Homo sapiens: one gene and its partner. The protein of the gene in region 1 purifies or fractionates together with the protein of each later gene. This does not show direct contact. Each region holds a gene or a part of one and is shown on either strand. Other genes may lie near its edges.

Evidence for each region.
Region 2: the proteins of LGALS3BP (region 1) and FBXO45 purify together in Homo sapiens (co-immunoprecipitation; 4 studies listed by BioGRID and IntAct, with this or other methods). This does not show direct contact.

Annotation. Positions count from the first base shown.
Region 1 is NC_000017.11:78,973,840-78,976,923, forward strand, and holds part of LGALS3BP (galectin-3-binding protein precursor), read right to left. Parts: intron 2,318-3,084; coding exon 2,126-2,317; intron 981-2,125; coding exon 849-980; intron 1-848.
Region 2 is NC_000003.12:196,571,660-196,575,159, reverse strand, and holds part of FBXO45 (F-box/SPRY domain-containing protein 1), read right to left. Parts: intron 1-3,500. UniProt on the Homo sapiens protein: Component of E3 ubiquitin ligase complex consisting of FBXO45, MYCBP2 and SKP1. Functions in substrate recognition but also plays an important role in assembly of the complex.

The sequences.
Region 1 (3,084 bases):
AACCAGGTGGGCTTGCCCTGGGCCTCCTAAAACCTGAGCCACCGCAGGACCCCCAGCTCCCTCCCACCTGCACGCCTTACCACAGCTCTCCTGCCCCAGGAGCTTTGGCCGTGCGCCCATGGCCCCGTGTGCTCCCCGCCGCCTCCCCTGGCCCCCGACAGCCCCATGGCGTCTCCTGGGCTTCCCCCACTGTGAGTCCAGGCTCAGCTCCAGCCACTTGTCCATCCCATGTGGGCACAGGGGCTCCCTGGGATTCGACCCGTCCTGCCTTAGGGGCCTCCAACTCCTGGCAAAGGGCAGTGGGCAGGAAATGCCCAGGTTGTCACGTGCAAGCCCAGGAAGAGCCACCTCGGCATGAAAGAAAAACAAGAAACTCAGATCCAGAGGCTCCAACCTGCAGAGCAGCCTGGGTTCCCTCCAAACTGGGCCAGGTTGGGGGAAGCAGGCTGAGGCTGCGAGTAGCCGGGACTCCCTCCGCCAGGACGGGCTTGAGCCTGTCGCGTGCTGTGAAGTGTATTTCTGAGCGGACGCTGGCATTTCAGGTCAGGCTGGAGCCAGGTGTCATGCTCACTGAAACTGTGGCTCACTGCCCCACACTCGGGTTCTGCATGGAGACTTGGTGGTTCTGGGTGTTTCTCCAGAAGGGGCTGGGGAGGAGTCTGGGACTGTGGGACTGGGAGCTGGTGGGCTCTTGGGACGTCTGGGCCTCTCCATGCGGAGTGGGCAGGCGGTAGTGGAAGGAACCTTTGTGTGCTTCATGTGCGTGGGGGGGTGGTGCTGGGAGGGGCAGGGGCCACGGGACCCCAGGGCACACTGGGGCCTCCGCAGGGAGGTGCGCCCCCGCTCACCATTGGTGCAGACCACACCAGCGTCTCTCTCGTGCCTGCAGTTGCTCTTCAGCCAGCCCAGGGACTTGCAGTCGGCCAGTGAGGCCTCGGTTCCCGTGCACTGGACCTCATCCAGCATGATGGGGCCTGATCCTGTGGACACAGCAGATGGCAGGGCTGGGGGCGTGACGACTGCACCCAGGAGTCCCACAGCGCGACTCAGCCCTTTGTTCTCCGCCCCGGCCGTGTGGGTCCATCTGCTTACAGGTCCTTCACCAGCGAACCACGGAGGATATTCCAGCATGGGCTGGATTTGTGATTGCAATGTCAGGCCATAAACTTAGCCTTCATGCTTATAAAGCTTACCGGCTGCTTCAGCGACATCACATTCATGTATAGTAATTGTGTGACTATCCCTGCAACATCAGTTTCACATACTGTAATTGTGTGACTATCCCTGCAACATCAGGTTCACATACTGTAATTGTGTGACTATCCCTGCAACATCAGGTTCACATATTGTAATTGTGTGACTATCCCTGCAACATCAGGTTCACATACTGTAATTGTGTGACTATCCCTGCTGCTAAATAGTTTATGGATTGTTTCTTTTTTTTCCAGAATCGCAACTGCTGTGTCAGTGGAAATCTTCCTGCAGACTTTTCTTTTGAGGAGAAATTGTTTCAATGGGATAAACTCCCTGGAGTGGAGTTTCTGGGCCGGAGGGAACGAGCCCAGCCGAGCTCTTGAACCTGCCCAAGCACCCGCCACCATCACTGGCCAAGTGTGGGTGGAGCAGTCCCATCAGAACTTGATCCGCAGGCCTTCAGCACCATTGAAAATGTTTGCTCATAGGCCGGGTGTGGTAATCCCAGCACTTTGGGAGGCTGAGGCGGGCGGATCACTTGACACCGGAAGTTTAAAAACCAGCCTGGCCAACATGGTGAAACTCTGTCTCTACTAAAAAATACAAAAATCAGCCGGGCATGGTGGCAGGTACCTGTAATCCCAGCTACTCAGAAGGCTGAGACAGGAGAATCACTTGAACTCAGGAGGCGGAGGTTGCAGTGAGCCGAGATTGTGCCACTGCACTCCAGCCTGGGCAACAGAGCGAGACTCCATCTCAAAAAAAAAAAAAAAAAAAAAAAAAAAAAAAAGTGTTTGCTCTTGCTAAATTAATAGGAATCCAATTTGCATGTCTTTGAAACCTGACTGTTTCGTCTTAGGGGATTTGCCCCTCCTGGGAGCTGGCTGTGCTGTGGGTCTCAGCCTCAGTGGAAGGGGACAGCAGGCCCTACCTTGCCCGAAGGCAGCTCTGCCCAGAGCCTGGGTGGCGTTCTCGAAGCCCAGGGCCCGGCAGACGACGCTGGCATCAGTCAGGTCCCACAGGTTGTCACACACAGTGCCCCACTGGCCTCTGTAGAAGATCTCCACGCGGCCCTGGTTGGTGGCGCCCCCATCGGCCAGCCGCATGTCACCATCGTTCACGCCTGCAGGCAGAGACCAGCGAGGGCGAGGCTGGGGCCTGCAGCACCCACCGCCCACACCTCCAGGCCCCATATGCTGTCCTGGGTCTCCCCTGCTGAGCTTGTATTTCAGGGCTTCAAGGTCCCCTGGCCTCTCCATGAGGGGCACCTCCATGAGGGAGGAGTGGAAGATACATACAGCCCCCCCTACCCCGCAAGGAGGCCAAACTCGCCTTTCCTTGTTTTAGGGGTCTCAGCCCTTCACTCCATAGACAGAACAGGGGCAGAGAAGCCCTGAGTTCTCCAGCACTGGGAGTGGAGGTGGCAAGACCCTGAGGGAAGGATAGGAGGGGAACGGAGGCCCCGTGCTGACCCGCCCTGCAGAGGGTGTCTGCAGTTTGGGGGTGCTGGCCTATGGGGGCAGCAGGCCTAGGGACCCCTGGGAGCACAGGCAGAATGTTTCCAGGGCAGATAATGGGATTCCCCCGCCCCACATGTCCTTCTGGGACTCAGTCCACCAACACTCCAGCCCCTACAGGAGCTGACAGAGCCGGGCAGGAGCTGGGTGCCTGAATCCAGTCGGGGGTACATCTGGCTTCCATGGGGCCCCCAGGATGAGCATGAGCTTCCAGGGGCTCACAGTGTAAAGAATGTGAGGAAAAGCAGCCAGGACCCTCTGGAAGACTGACCTGCGTCCAAGGCCACTGACCTCACAACGGCCCCTGTGACTGCTGGTTTGATCAGCCCCTCTGGTTCCCTCTGGACGGAATGGAGGATTCCCTAGTGTCCTC
Region 2 (3,500 bases), on another chromosome or scaffold:
CTTCTATGACATCTTCCTATTTCCCTGAACTGATCCTGTATCATTTCCTTTTTTGGTGACCACCCTTCCTCTGCCCCAACCAAATTCTCCAAACTCAGTCCTCAACTCTCTATCTGAATTATTTCCAAACCTGTCTTTCTAAAACAGCACCTTTACTACATATCTCATCCCAGTTCTATAACCTCTGGTAGTTCCATACTTAGTAGCATCACCAACTGCAAATTCTTCTGCCTGGCTTTCACAGCCCTCCAAATCTGATTCTTCCTATTTCCCTTTCTACCTTGATGATGTTCTTCTTGCTGAAAGTATTATATGTGCTTTCTTCTCCCACACATTCTCTAAGATCACCTCTATTAAGCTATTCTTAACCAGGGCCACCCAATTCCCTTGATGTCTCTCTCTGCCGGGTGCTTGCCCACCACTTTCTGTGCCACGTAACAATTTAGCAGCTCTTATTTTCTAACACACTTTTAACCACTGAGTCTAGTACAAAATAACTTGCAAAAAAAATCTAATCTAATCTAAATTGATCACACCTCAGTAGGAAATAGAGGACAGAAGAACATGTCAAGCAACACGATGATAATGAAATCCGCAAAATCGAGCTGAGAGTAAACCACCTTGTTTCCTCAACAAATAAGGTGGGAGGTTGGGGAGATGGTGAGTGAATATGTAGACTAAAATAGCCTTAAGAGACATATCAACCTTTGCCATGGGACCCTTATATAGATCTTGATTATATAAAATATAACTTTAAAATGCAACATTTAACATTTATGAGACAACTGGCAATTTGAACACTGCATTTTTGATATTAAGGAATTAATGTACATTTATATTTAGATGTGATAACCATATTGTGATTACATTAAGTGTCTTTACTTTTTAGAAACAGATACTGGAAACTTCATATGAAATGGGAAAATAGGCCGGGCATGGTGGCTCACACCTATAATCCCAGCACTTCAGGAGGCCGAGGCAGGCGGATCACGAGGTCAAGAAATCGAGACCGTCCTGGCCAACATGGTGAAAGCCTGTCTCTACTAAAAATACAAAAATTAGCTGGACGTAGTGGCAGGCTCCTGTAATCCAAGCTACTTGGGAGGCTGAGGCAGAATCACTTGAACCCAGGAAGCAGAGGTTGCAGTGAGCTGAAATTGTGCCACTGCGCTCCAGCCTGGGCAACAGAGCAAGACTCTGTCTCAAAAAAAAAAAAAAAAAGGAAAATAAAGACCAAATTAATAAATTAAAAACAACCCATAGCCTCACATTCCCATGCACAACCTGAATTTTGTTATGGCAAAAGCAGCATGAAGACCTAGCTTAAAATCTAAGTCTGAACTTTAGAGAATTCTCATCAGATGCCAAGTATGACTTAAATAATTAATGCTACGGGGTGATATGTAAAATATGAACTTAAAAAAAAAACAACTGAACAGATTAATAAACTCCACTTTCCTGTTCTATGCTATCCCTAAACCTTTTCCTATCATTCTCTGTTATCCAGGCTCCTGGGAAAATCCATTTGACACATCCATCTTCCTCATCCCATTCACCCAGTCAGCTGTCTACCTATGTATATTGTTTTCTACGACAGCTCTCCAGCCATCCCCTTCTCTCCTCGATGTACCTGTTCCAGTCTTAAGTATCTCTGGTATAGGCACTAACCGCTGCCCTCTCCAACTCATCTATGGCCTAGTCTTTTTGAAGTAGAGCCTTTGTCACTCTGCTGTTCAAACTTCTATGGTTTACAACTGTAGTACAAAACCCAAACTATAGACTGAAGGCTATATTTCAAAGCCCTCCATGATATATCTAGTCCCATAATATAGCTTTATAATATTTCCCACTACTTCCTTTCATTCAATCTAACTATATTATTTTATATCTTTAGCGCAGATCTCTCCTCTAAGCTCCAACCTCCAACAGCTGCCTATTGGAAATCTCTGTCTCAAAAATACTGTAAATGCTGCTCTCCCAAAACTGAACTCACTGCCATTTCTTCGAAACCTAGCCCACCAGCCTGGGCAACATAATGAGACATCTCTACAAAAAAAAATAATAATAAAAATTAGCTGGGCATGGTGGCACATGCCTGTAGTCCCAGCCACACAGAAGGCTGAAGTGGGAGGATCGCTTGAGCCCAGGAGTTCAAGGCTGCAGTGAGCTATGATCATTCCACTGCACTCCAGCCAGGGCAACAGAGCAAGACCTCATCTCAAAAAAAAAATCTAGATCAACTGATCTCTACATTATGTGAGCCAAATACTAGGAGTCATCCTTACCACTTCCCTCTTCCTCATCCCTATTTCAAATCTATTGCCAATTCTATAGATTTTACTTACTAAATCTGCCCATTTCTATCTCCTCCACTACCTATTTCCTAATTGATCTACCATATTTCTAAGGTCCTCTTCCAACCAACAATTTAGTTCTCCATACTAAAGTCAGAAATAATCTCTTAAAATGCAAAATAATCATATCACCAATCCCCACACCTCAAATCCTTCTTGCTTACAACTCAAAATGGCTTCCCTACGCTTTGGTCCCAGTCCACTTCTTCCATCTTATCTCAAACCAGCATCACCTTTGCTCTCTGTGCTCCAGCCACATTGACATATTTTCCATCCCTCACACTCATAAGGTTCCCTCCTGGAAGGCTGTTCTCTCTCCCCTTTGCCTACTTATCATCCTTCAGGTCTCAGTACATGGATCTGAGAAAGCCTTCCCTCACCTCTCCACCAGGTTAAATCCTCCACTACTGACAATCAGAGCACTAGGTATTTTTCCTTCATACTACTTACCAGATGCGGTTTTACATCTGTGTGATTATTTGATTAATATCCATTTCCCCTACTAGACTGTAAGCTCCATAAGGCAAGACATCCATTAAGAGACTGTGTTTGTTTTATTTGCCATTGCATCTGCAAATGAGCATAGTGCCTGGCACTCATTTTTTTAAATAAAAATATATGTTGTACAAACCCTTTACTTTCCTCTTGTCCTGCTTCTGCTCAGAGTACTTCCTCTTCCTAAAATACTAAACTCCTCCTCATCTTTAAAATTCAGCTCAAATATAAGCTCAACCTCAAATCTCCTCCAATCCTCCACTCAGTTTGTAAATTCCTCCTTTCACTGAACTTCTAGTATACTTTTTTATGTCTGTAACAGTAAGGAGCAATTTCTACCACACATTAGCAGTTCTTTCTATACATTTTTCTCTCCTCTACTAGACTGAAAGATTTCCTACTAGACTATTTGACTCCTTTTGAATTAATCTTTTATCCTCAAAATATTCAAGGGAAGTCCTACAATGTGTGAATGAACAGTGATTGGTACAAGTCTACAACATCTATAATGCACATAGCAGAAAAGCAAAGTATTAAAAACCTCAGAAACCTAAAATATCTCTGGAAGGATACAAAAGAAAAAGTAAGACAGGTTGCATACATGGAGAGGAACCGGGTAGCTGAGCGACAAGGATGAAAGGAAAACATTTT